Regions from separate parts of the Homo sapiens genome. Here regions 1 and 3 are each linked to region 2. Evidence: fine-mapped expression QTL. A gene starts in region 2. Each other region holds a variant in brackets. All regions are shown on one strand. Distances are between the middles of the regions.

Region 1 (4,156 bases), 250 kb before region 2:
AAATACAAATACAAAAATAAAGCAGTCTGGGCTGGGCGTGGTGGCTCACGCCTGTAATCCCAGCACTTTGGGAGACCGAGGTGGGAGGATCACCAGAGGTCAGGAGTTTGAGACCAGCCTGGCCAACATGGTGAAACCCCATCTCTACTAAAAATACAAAAATTAGCTGGGTGTGGTGGCGGGCGCCTGTAATCGCAGCTGCTGGGGAGGCTGAGGCAGGAGAATTGCTTGAACCCAGAAGGCAGAGGTTGCAGTGAGCCGAGATCTCACCACTGTACTCCAGCCTGGGTGACAGAGTGAGACTCCATCTCAAAAAAAAAAAAAGAAAAAAGAAAAAAGCAATCTAGTAATCTGGTGTGGTTGTTAGGCGTGTGGACTTTGAAGCCAGACTGCCTGAATTCACATCTTTGTTCCATCACTAAGCAGATGAACTTGTGCAAGTTAGATTCTTTGTGCCTCAGTTTCCCCATCTGGAAAATAGAGATGATAATGATGGTAACAGTCATGCATTGCATAAAGATGTGTAAGTCAGCAAGGGACAGCAAATATGAAGGTGGTCCCATAAAATTATATTACTGGCTGGGTGCAGTGGCTGACATCTGTAATCTTAGCACTTTGGGAGGCTGATGTGGGAGGATTACTTGAAGCCAGAAGGCTGGAACAAGCCTGGGCAACACAGTGAGACCCCATCTCTACTAAAATTCAGAACAAATTAGCCAGGCATGGTGGCGTGGACCTGTAGTCCCAGATACTCAGGAGGCTGAGGTGGGAGGAGCACTTGAGCCAAGGAGGTCGAGGCTGCAGTGAGCCTGATGGTGCCACTGCACTCCAGTCCGCATGACAGAACAAGACCCTGTCTCAAAACAAACAAACAAAAACAATTACCGTGTTTTTACTGTACATCTTCTATGTTTTATTTATTTATTTATTTATTTATTTTGAGATGGAGTCTCCCTCTGTCGCCCAGGCTGGAGTGCAGTGGCCTGATCTAGGCTCACTCCAACCTCTACCTCCCAGGTTCAAGTGATTCTTCTGCCTCAGCCTCCTGAGTAGCTGGGACTACAGGCAAGTGCCGCGACACTGGCTAATTTTTGTATTTTTAGTACAGATGGGGTTTCACCATGTTCGCCAGGCTGGTCTTGAACTCCTGACCTCAAGTAATCCACCCGCCTGGGCCTCCCAAAGTGCTAGGATTACAGGCGTGAGCCACCGCGCCTGGCCATCTTCTATCTTTAGAAACACTAATACTTACCCTCATGTTGCAGCTGCCTTCAATATTTGGTGCAGTCATATGCTGTAGAGGTTTGTAGCCTAGGAGCAGTAGGCTAGACCATATGGCTTAGGTGTGTAGTAGGCTAGACCATCTAGGTTTGTGTAAGTCCACTCTGAGATGTTCCCACAATGATGAAATTGCCTAACAAGGAATTTGTTGAATGTGTCTGTTATTAAGTGACTCATGACTGTAATGGGTTGGCCTGAGGATTTGGTGACCTAATGCAGGTGATGACTTTGGCCCGGAGCCTGGTACATCATAATTATTGTTACCTGCCTGGGATTGAAGAGAGGGAAAAGGAAGGAGAATACATGGGGTTTGGCCATTTTCCCCCTTCCCCTAACAGCGCAGCTGGCCCAGATCAGAACCTCCATGGCACAGTGCTGAGAGGGGCCAGGAGGAAGATTACTGTCACATCTCCTACTATATGTATCTTTCCTTAAGAAGCACTGGTTGGCCGGGCGTGGTGGCTCCCACCTGTAATCCCAGCACTTTGAGAGTCTG[A/T]GGCAGACTTATTGCCTGGGTTCAGGAGTTCAAGACCAGCCTGGCCAACATGCCGAAACCCCGTGTCTGCCAAAAATACAAAAAATTAGCCAGGTGTGATGGGTGCCTGTAATCCCGGCTACTGGGGAAGCTGAGGCACGAGGATCATTCCAGGAGGCAGAGGTTGCGGGGAGCTGAGATCGCGCCACTGCACTCCAGCCTCGGTGACAGAACGAGACTCTGTCTCAAACAAAAAAGAAAAAACAAAAAAGAAAAAGAAACACTGGCCAGGAACCTCAAATGCCGCAAACTTGAATTAGTCTGGACTTCCTGTGTCATTCTGGGCAAATCCCCTCCTTTCTCTAGGCCTCAGTTTCCCTTTCTGCAGATTTTGATGCCCACATCACAGAGGGAGAGGGGAGCTCCAAGTAGTAGAGTCTGCACAGAAGTGCTTAGAGCCTGGAGCTTGCCCCTTGACCCTACCTCATCCATCTAAACACCAATGGGATCCTGGCTCCTATCTCCCAGCTTGGAGGGAGGGTGCTGCCCTAGGCTCCTGCCACAACCCTGACATTCCCTCTTTCCTGTCTTTGTAGGCATGGCCATTCCAGCCTTCCTTCTCCCCTGACTTAGGTCCCTGTTTTAGTTGTTGTTGTTTTTTTTTTTTTTGTCTTTTTTTTTTTTTTTTTTTTGAGCCAGAGTCTCACTCTATCACTCAGGCTGGAGTGCAGTGGCGCAATCTCAGCTCACTGCAACCTCCGCCTCCTGGGTTCAAGCGATCCTCCTGCCTCAGACTCCCAAGTGGCTGGGATTACAGGCATGTGCCACCATACCCGGCTAATTTCTGTATTTTTAGTAGAAACGGGGTTTCGCCATGTTGGTCTCAAACTCCTGACCTCAAGTGAGCCGCCTGCCTTGGCCTCCCAAAGTGCTGGGATTACAGGCATGAGCCACCACACCCGGCTAATTTTTGTATTTTTAGTAGAAACAGGGTTTCGCCATGTTGGTCTCAAACTCCTGACCTCAAGTCAGCCACCTGTCTCGGCCTCCCAAAGTGCTGGGATTACAGGTGTGAGCCACCGCACCCGGCCCTGTTATCCCTGGTTTTTAGACAAGGAAACTGCTGTGCACAGAGATTAAATGGCTTTCTGCTGTCTCCGGTAAAGTGCTCTCAGAGCCAACCTCCTGCCTCTCTAGTACCCAGGGCCTCCCACTTCTTCTGTCCCACTGTACTTGCTGTCCCTATCCTGGGACTGAGGCTCCACTCCTCCTACTTCTATGGGGAGCCAAGGCCACTGAAGTCTTGCCCTGCCCAGGCCCAGAATCGGGGCAGACTCCAGGCCACTCACCTTGATGAGCTGGGGAAGCAGCAAGTCCTCATGCCTTCTCTGAGCCTCAGTTTCCTTTTTGAGAGAGAGCTCATAAATGCCTTTCTCTCTCTCCTTTTTTTTTTTTTTTTTTGTTGAGACAGAGTCTCGCTGTGTTGCCCAGGCTGGAGTGCAGTGGAGTGATCATAGCTCATTGCAGTCTTGACCTCCTGGGCTCAAGTGATTCTTCTGCTTCAGCCTCCTGAGTCACTGGGACTACAGATGTGTGCCACCACACTTGGCTAATTTTTAAATTTTTTGTAGAGACAGGTGTCGCACCATGTTGCCCAGACTAGTCTTGAACTCCTGGCCCCAAGAGATCTTTCTGCCTAGGCCTCCCAAAGCACTGGGATCACAGGCGTGAGCCACTGCGCCCGACCTAGATGCCTTTCTTTCTTTCTTTTTTTTTTTGAGACGGAGTCTCACTCTGTCACCCAGGCTGGAGTGCAGTGGTGCGATCTTGGCTCACTGCAAGCTCCGCCTCCCGGGTTCACGCCATTCTCCTGCCTCAGCCTCCAGAGTAGCTGGGACTACAGGCGCCCACCACCACGCCCGGCTAATTTTTTGTATTGTTTTTTTTTTTTTTTTAGTAGAGACAGGGTTTCACTGTGTTAGTCAGGATGGTCTTGATCTCCTGGCCTCGTGATCCACCTGCCTCGCCTCCCAGAGTGCTGGGATTACAGGTGTGAGCCACCGGCCCTAGATGCCTTTCTGTCTTACCCACCTGCTCCCCATCAGGGAAGAGCTGGGGCTGGACCATGAATCTGAGATCACTCCTGGAAAGGCCTCTGAACTCCTGGGGCTCTCGGGAGCCAATGGTGGGAGGCAGACAGGACCCCTGCCTTCTACCTCACCTCCCTGGCTGGGTCATTGTCATGAGCCCAGTGGGTCTCATTTGGGAGCTCCTGGTTGACACCCCATGGGACAGCATCAGAAAGCCCCAGGTTTTTGCTCCCCAGTGCTCCCAGCCCCACCCATCCCCAGCTGTATAAAGTCGAGGTGAGGTCAGGAGCCAGGGAGGGCCCTCATCTGC
Region 2 (4,125 bases):
TTGCAGTGAGCCAAGATGGCGCCACTGCACTCCATCCTGGGCAACAGAGTGGGACTCTGTCAGGTCCATCCTGGCCAACATGGTGAAACCCCATCTCTACTAAAAACACAAAAATTAGCTGGGCACGGTGGTGCGCGCCTGTAGTCCCAGCTATTCGGGAGGCTGAGGCAGGAGAATCGCTCCAACCTGGGAGGTGGAGGCTGCAGTGAACCGAGATCACGCCACTGCACTCCAGCCTGTCGACAGGGCGAGGCACTGCATCAAAAAAAGTAAATAAAATTGGTACCCTCTTCCCTAACACAAGCACCCTACAATCCCCATTTTTCTTGCATGTTCATCACTATTTTAAGATACTTTATAATGAGTGGGGCAATAAGTAAAATATCTAGTAATTTCCGTGAGAGCAGGGACTTCTGTGTTTTGTTCACCGCTGTATTTCCAGTACCTAGCTCAATAAATATGTCGGATATCTGAAGGTCCTACCAAAACTCAACCTCTCCCTGGACACCCCTGTCCTCTCTTTGGTTGGCTGCCCCTCCCCCACACCTCATCCCTCCTGTCCTGTTTACTCATTCCCTAAGACCTTCATCGCCTCCACCTGTCCTAAGTTTACTCATTCCCTAAGACCTTCATCGCTTCCACCTGTCCTAAGTTTACTCATTCCTGTCCCATATCAAGTGTCACTTCTCACTTATCTTGGTATCCCCTGCAGCACCCAGCATAGTTGTTGGCAAGCACAGGTACTTAATGTACTTATCTGTATACAGCTGGGCCCCCACTTCACCGCAGCGCAAAAGCATTTGGTACATTCAACTTACAATGGGGTTGCCTGTGGGAACCCATTGCAAGTTGAAAATACACAAAGTTAAACTCGCCTTTTGACTTAGGATATTACCAACTTGCGATGGGTATGGGAAGTAGCCATCAATCCAGGAGCATTTGTATTTATTTTTCAAATGAACTGGATGTACAGGAAACTCGAGAACTTCGATGATAAATTTGGATTCCCCTTTAAAATTACCTCCCTCTTGGGCGTCGTAATTAAAAGGCAATGCGAGCACCTCCTGGGTTCTCAAAATTAGGTTTAATTAGATTCACCTGGTAAAAATGCGGACCCCCCCCCCCCCCCCCGCAGTCTTAAGCTTCTTCAATGAACCCAGACGTCTGTTTTTTATTAGCTTTCTGGTGATTCTGACACACTGCAGAGTTTAAGAACCACCATTCTAGAAGATGGCTAAAAATAGCCTAGGCTCCTAGGCTTAAGTGGTCGCGGGCCAAGTCAAGCACTGTTAAGACACCTGGCGGCAGGCTCAGTCCGCCCACAGCAGGAGAGATCCTCCAAAAAGGTTAAGAGGAAGCCGTCTTCAGGTCAGAAGCGCTGAATTCTAATCCTCTGGCCAAATGACTGTAACCCTGGCCCAGTTCTCTAGCCTCGGTTTGTCCATACTATGGAATTAGGAAGTATACGATTTCTTTTATTCACGCACAACTCACACGGATGCTGCAAGGAGATTAGCTACGTCAAAGCAATGGAACGCTGCAGAAAAAAACGTAAGTTTACTTTCAGATGCAGAGCCCTGGTTTCCCAACCTTGAAGGCGTGCAAGCCAAGAGCAGGTCCTCTGGGAAATCTGGGAGACCTGGGGGAACCCTGACAAATGGACCGGCCCTGGAGCGGGACTACCTCGCCCCCTTTTCCCCGGCTTTCTCCCCCGCACCTCCAGGCCAGTGTCAGGGCCTGCCCCGGGCGCCACAGTCTCCAGCCAGTGCCGGGCATCCCTGCGGTCCAGGCTGGCCTGGAGAGGGTCAGAGCTGCCCGCGAACCGGGGACGCACGTGGCCCGGGCCGGGGGGCCTCCGCCTGCAGGCCGCCCCTCGTCTGGCCTACCTGGGCCGAGGTGCTGAAGCTGCGGCGGAGAGCAGCGCTGGCAGGCCGGGCGAGGGCGGAGAGCATGGCTGGAGCGGGAGGGGCACCGACTGGCAGGCACAGGAGCTGGTGACGGGGAAGTGACTCCAACGACCTCCACACTGCCCAGCGCCTGCTCTCTGGGGCCTCGCGAGAGTGACCGGACTTCCGGTCGCGCTCGCCTCCGGGATCTCGTGAGATCACGGCCACTTCCGGGAGTCGGAAAGGAAAGCTGTGGGACCATCCTGGCAACCCCGGTGTTTGGCTGGGTTCTAGCGTAGCCGTCTGTGTGGCCGGTGGGGGACCTGCGGTCGGAGTGGGAGGGCCAGTCTGCACCCAAGAGGTGGAAGAGGACGGGCTTTAGGCTGGAAGCGCCTTAGAGGAGCCATTTTTCCAGGTGGGGCCCCAGGCAGAGGCTCCGACAGGGAGCCTGGCCATAGTCGCGCAGCCGGGGAGGTGGAGCGCGTCCCAGACCCGAGCCCCCGACCTCAGCCAAACCCATTCCTTCTGCCCTTGGAGGCCAGAGGGGACTCTGAGCTCCGGAAAGGTAGGGTCAGGGAGGCTGAGAGTCCTTAGGCGGGGTGGGAGGAAGGGGCCATCTCCTCAGATCCGGGCCGTCGTTTCCCAAGTTGCAGAGACCCTTGGGTTCAGGTTTAGTGACACCACTGCTGATAATGGCGACCTCCAGCCCTGCAAGCTTTAGAGGACCACTATTCTGTGTTCCAGATGAGCAAATAGGTTGTAGGGACAACAACTTCCGTGGTCATACAGTTCCTGTCTTCTCTCGCCTGCCCGGCAGTGCTCTGACGGTCCCACTGTTTCTGCTTTACGAATAAAGACACTGTGGCTGAGGCCAAGTGGATTTGTAGAGTTTACGCAGACAGAAAGTCGAGTAGAATTCCTTGCTCACAATGAGTTTATTACTTAAATGTATGAATTTATTTATTTTTTTGAGACGGAGTCTCTCTAGCCCAGGCTGGAGTGCAGTGGCGCGATCTTGGCTCACTGCAACCTCTGCCTGTCAGGTTCAAGTGGTTCTCCTGCCTCATTCTCCTGAGTAGCTGGGATTAGCGCACCACTACACCTGGCTAATTTTTTGTATTTTTTTTTTAGTAGAGACGGGGTTTCACCACGTTGGTCAGGCTGGTCTCGAACTCCTGACCTCGTGATCCACCCGCCTCGGCCTCCCAAAGTGCTGAGATTACAGGCGTGAGCCACCGCGCCCGGCCTGATACATATTTTTAAAATTAAACAACACCCCCAGGCAAGGTGGCTCATGCCTGTAATCCCAGCACTCTGGGAGGCTGAGGCGGGCCGATCACTTGAGGCCAGGAGTTCATGACCAGCCTGGCTAACATGGTGAAACCCCATCTCTACTAAAAATACAAAAATTAGCCCAGCGTGGTGGTGTACACCTGTAGCCCCAACTACTCCGGAGGCTGAGGCAGGAGAATCGCTTGAACCCGGGAGGTGGAGGGAGGTTGCAGTGAGCCGAGATAACCCCACTGTACTCCAGCTTGGGCGACGGAGAAAGACTCTGTCTCAAAAAAAAAAAAAAAAAAAGCCGGGTGTGGTGGCTTATGCCTGTAATCCCAGCACTTTGGGAGGTCAAGGCGGGCAGATCACCTGAGGTCAGGAGTTTGAGACCAGACTGGCTAATGTGGCGAAACCCCATCTCTACTAAATATACAAAAATTGGCTGGGCATGGTGGCGTGTGCCTGTAGTCCCAGCTACTCAGGAGGCTGAGGCAGGAGAATCCCTTGAACCCAGGAGGTGGAGGTTGCTGTGAGCCAAGATTGTGCCATTGTACTCCATCCTGGGTGATAAGAGCTAAACTCCGGCTCAAAAGCGCGCGCGCGCGCGCGCGCACACACACACACACACACACACACACACACACACACACACACACACACACACACACACACACACAGCAGATAAGCTGAGACATGCTGGAAGAGTAGGTGTTTCTCAATGGAACATTCAACTCCAGAGGAGGGAAAGATCCCTTGCCTTGGAATCAGAATTCTCAAAGGAGGGGCACTAGGGCCTGAGCATTTAACAATGGGAAATGTTTAGACAGGAAAGGAGGAGAAAAAAGGCCAAATAAAATCCTAGCGGGAAAAAATAAGCATAGGCCAGTATTCAGGGGACAGTGAATAGATCATTTATTTTGGAGTGGGGACATTAGGGCAAGCAGTGTCCTTTGTTTATCTTATC
Region 3 (4,156 bases), 160 kb after region 2:
AAGAACTCTTTTTTTTTTTTTTTGAGACGGAGTCTCGCTCTTTTGCCCAGGCTGGAGTGCAGTGGCGCGATCTCGGCTCACTGCAAGCTCCACCTCCCAGGTTCACACCATTCTCCTGGCTCAGCCTCCCGAGTAGCTGGGACTACAGGTGCCCACCACCGCACATGGCCAATTTTTTGTATTTTTAGTAGAGATGGGGTTTCACCGTGTTAGCCAGGATGGTCTCGATCTCCTGATCTCGTGATCCACCCGCATCAGCCTCCCAAAGTGCTGGGATTACAGGTGTGAGCCACCGCGCCCGGCCCTTCAGCATGGAAGAACTTTCTCATCAGGGCCAGTCTTGGAGAGTGAGCTCTTGTATGTGAGATACAGCTGGAGACCACCATCAGCTATTACAGAGGGGATTCCTTGGTGACAGACAGTTCTCCAGATTCAATGAGAACAACTAAAACCCACAAAACACCTAGTCCTAAATGTACAGTCTCCCCCACATTGAGACCCCAGGAATTACTTGCCTGAAGCAATAATGCGGTGAGTCCGCATTTCTGTTTTCCCAGCAGCCCTCCTGGCCTTTTAGAAAAATAGTCCAAGGGCTCTGAGCTGTTGACAGCTGGGAGCACCTCTTGGAAGAAGCTCTAAGGGCAGCTTCCTATTCAACAAAAACCCCACATCCAGGCCAGCGTGCAGGGGAAAATTTACTCCACAGCTGGTGGCGGGCCAAAAAGGGCCAAGGACCAAGCACCTTGCCTTCTGATACACTTTGGATGTTTCCTCTGCTCCAAATCATGTGCTGAAATGGATCTTTAGCCGGGTATAGTGGCACGCGCCTATAATTCCAAGTACTTGGGAGGCTGAGACAGGAGAATCACTTGAACCCAGGAGGTGGAGGTTGCAGTGAGCTGAGATCACGCCACTGCACTCCAGCCTGGGCCACAGAGTGAGACTCCATTTCAAAAAAAAAGAAACGTGATTCCCAGTGTTCCAGCACTAGAGGTGGAGCTCAGTGGGAGGCGTCTGGGTCACGGGGGCAGACCTTGCGTGAGTGGCTTGGCTTCTTCCCCGTAGTAATGAGTTCTCCCTCTGAGTTTAGGTAAGAGCTGGGTGTTTAAGAGCCCAGCACCTCCCTCCCTCTCTCAATGTGTGGTGCCGCCTCCCCTTGCCCTATGATTGGAAGCTGCCTGAGGCCGGTGCCATGATCCTAGTGTAGCCTACGAAGCCATGAGCCAAATAAACCTCTTTTCTTATAAATGACCCAGGCTCAGGTATTTCTTTATAGCAATACAAAATGGATGAACACGCCTTTCCCAGCGAGCTCCTTTTTTGGGGGGAGGACCACTGAAGGAAAGAAAAAATCCTACACTGTGAGGTCTCAGCATGGACAGAAACCAGCGGAGAACTCAGAGGCAGGAGGCACTGGGAACAGGGGAGAGGGAGGGAGGTGGCCTCCTAAGCAGGGGACGTGCTTCCAGATGGCCCCTCTCCTGACTCTGTTACCTGGAAACAGAGTGGGTGAGAAAGACCCTTGTCTTCTTTGGGCCTCCTCTATAAAATGAAGCAGCCAGGCCACACAAGCTCTGGCGGCTTACCAGCACTTTCCATCTGTGAGTTAATCAGCCAACTGGAAAACAGTAAACCTCACCAGAAAACCTGGGCTGGGCCACCTCCTAAGCAGCCTAGTTGGCTGTGTGGACTGTCTGCACCTTTTTTTTTTTTTTTTTCTTGGGAGACAGTGTCTTGCTCTGTCAACCAGGCTGGAGTGCTGTGGTGTGATCTCGGTGCACTGCAACCTCCACCTCCCAGGTTCGAGTGATTCTCCTGCCTCAGCCTCCTGAGTAGCTGGGATTACAGGCAACCACCACCACGCTTGGATAATTTTTGTATTTTTAGCAGAGATGGGGTTTCATCACGTTGGCCAGGCTCGTCTCAAATTCCTGACCTTATATGATCTGCCCACCTTGGCCTCCCAAAGTGCTGGGATTACAGGCGTGAGCCATCGCACCCAGCCCTATCTGCACTTATCGAGGCTATTGTGTGTCACAGCCCAGGCTGACCTGCAGCAGGTATGTGTCTAAT[G/T]TCAATTAGATGGGGGCCCTCCTGCCCAGCCTATCTACAAGTCACTCAGGATCACATGTTAAGTGTCCTCAAATGCCTTCCCTTTCCTGCTGTTGCTACTTCAGAAGCAGTTGTGCAGAATCCAGAATGCTCAGAAGACATCTGTGCATTATTTTCCAATCTGCCGCACCTCATTTCTTTATCACTTACGGCAATAAACCAGCCACACCCTCTGCATGCCCTGGAGTTGCTTTAATAATAAGGTTAGGCCAGGCTCAGTGGCTCACACCTGTAATCCCAGTACTTTGAGAAATCAAGGAAGGATGGATTGAGACCAGGAGTTTGAGACCAGCCTTGGTAACACAGTGGAGACCCTGTCCCTACAAAAAATTTAAGTTAGCTAGGCATGATGGTATGTGCCTGTAGTCTCAGTTACTTGGGAGGCTGAGGTGGGAGGATCACTTGAGTCCACGAGTGTGAGGCTGTAGCGGGCTATGATCATACCACTGCAATCCAGCCTGGGCAACAGGGCAAGACCCTGTCCTCAAATAAAAAAAAGAATAAAAAAACAGAATAAGATTTGACAGCATTTGGCCGGGGGCAGTGGCTCACGCCTGTAATCCCAGCACTTTGGGAGGCCGAGGCAGGTAAATCACAAGGTCAGGAGTTCGAGACCAGCCTGGCCAACATGGTGAAACCCCATCTCTACTAAAAATACAAAAAAATTAGCTGGATGTAGTGGTGGGCACCTGTAATCCCAGACACTGAGGAGACTGAGGCAGAAGAATCACTTGAACCTGAAGCAGAGGTTGCAGTGAGCCGAGATTGTGCCACTGCACTACAGCCTGGGTGACAGAGTGAGACTCCGTCTCAAAAAAAAAAAATAATTTTTTTTTTAAAAAAGATTTAACAGCACTTAAGAGTTCTGTCACTTACTTCCGGCTCTGGGCTGCCCTCCTCTCGGCTGAAGACCCTGAGACGTACTTGAACACGGATATCCTCCTCATCAGGCTGAAGGGGAAGGTCTGATCGAGCTTCAGTGCCACTCGCTCTGAGAGGTCGATGGAATAGCAGTAGGTGAGGCCATCTGAGGTTGGCGTGTTAAGTGAAACTGGAGGCAGCAAAGGGAGGAGGGCCGAACACTCCCCGGGGAGAACACAGGTTCCCACTCACTCTACAGAAGCCTTCATGCTTAGCACGCTGCACACTCTGGCTGGAGTTTGCAGCTCAGGGGAAACCCAGAGCCAAAGGTTTGTTTTTTTTTTTGAGATGGAGTCTCACTCTAGCAGCCCAGGCTGGAGTGCAGTGGTGTGATCTTGGCTCACTGCAAGCTCCGCCTCCCAGATCACACCATTCTCCTGCCTCAGCCTCCAGAGTAGCTGGGACTACAGGTGCCCGTCACCACACCCAGCTAATTTTTGTATTTTCAGTAGAGACAGTGTTTCACCATATTGGCTAGGCTGGTCTTAAACTCCTGACCTCGTGATCTGCCTGCCTCAGCCTCCCAAAGTGCTAGTATTACAGGCGTGAGCCACTGCGCCTGACCCCAGAGCCAAAGGTTTCTACTCACTGTGCCTCACCGGGAATGAATGCGCCCAGCAGCAGGGGGTATTAATGCTGTCCCTTCTCCTACACCCATGTGTGCCACCACTTGCACCCTTCTAGCCACTGCAGTCAGTCAGAAGCCAGGACATGCCTCTGCTGGTGTAGCAGGATAAGGCAGGAGGCTGTACCAGTATCATCCTGAGGGACTAACACCTCGTCCTTTTATCTCAAATAGAGGGCACCTGCCTCAGTGCGACCATGTGAGCTTCATGTGGGCCTCTCTGGCTGTGCTTCCTCCATACCCTGTCACCATCCCCAGCAACTTGGTGGTATCCTGGTCGTCTGACCTAAGTCACCCACCACTGATTAGGCAGCCACAAAGATTCAGCCTTTGAATAAAGGCTATGCTAGACTCTCCCGAAAAGAGCTTAGAAACAAACCTCAAGTTTCAAGCCAATCTTCAAGTAAGTTAACCGCCTATCAGAACAAAAGTCAACATTTTTTAAAGGAAAACAACAAAATCTAGAGCCCCTAATACAGCATTCAGTGTCTAGCATAA

Evidence for each region. PIP is the estimated chance that this variant, and not a neighbour inherited with it, causes the effect. A credible set is the group of variants that fine-mapping cannot tell apart.
Region 1: its variant is the best candidate, but not a certain one, in a credible set for the expression of STYXL1 in sigmoid colon (GTEx, PIP 0.77).
Region 3: its variant is the best candidate, but not a certain one, in a credible set for the expression of STYXL1 in esophagus muscle (GTEx, PIP 0.85).

The regions. Positions count from the first base shown.
Region 1 is chr7:76,297,696-76,301,851 of GRCh38, reverse strand. No RefSeq gene overlaps it. Among named protein-coding and RNA genes, the nearest start is that of HSPB1, 2.9 kb to the left of the region's middle. RefSeq lists a silencer at 2,146-2,440. The variant A/T (reference allele first, on the strand shown) is at 1,778.
Region 2 is chr7:76,045,988-76,050,112 of GRCh38, reverse strand. STYXL1 (serine/threonine/tyrosine interacting like 1) reads left to right here and starts at 2,113. Exons shown (of 9, transcript NM_001317785.2): 1 at 2,113-2,451. It overlaps MDH2 (malate dehydrogenase 2), which reads right to left and starts at 2,007. Exons shown (of 9, transcript NM_005918.4): 1 at 1,887-2,007. The coding sequence starts at 1,952. RefSeq lists enhancers at 1,076-1,857, 2,133-2,212, 2,323-2,412, 1,858-2,640 and a silencer at 1,723-1,882.
Region 3 is chr7:75,882,681-75,886,836 of GRCh38, reverse strand. RHBDD2 (rhomboid domain containing 2) reads right to left here. Exons shown (of 4, transcript NM_001040456.3): 3 at 2,989-3,139. Among named protein-coding and RNA genes, the nearest start is that of RHBDD2, 5.7 kb to the right of the region's middle. The variant G/T (reference allele first, on the strand shown) is at 2,074.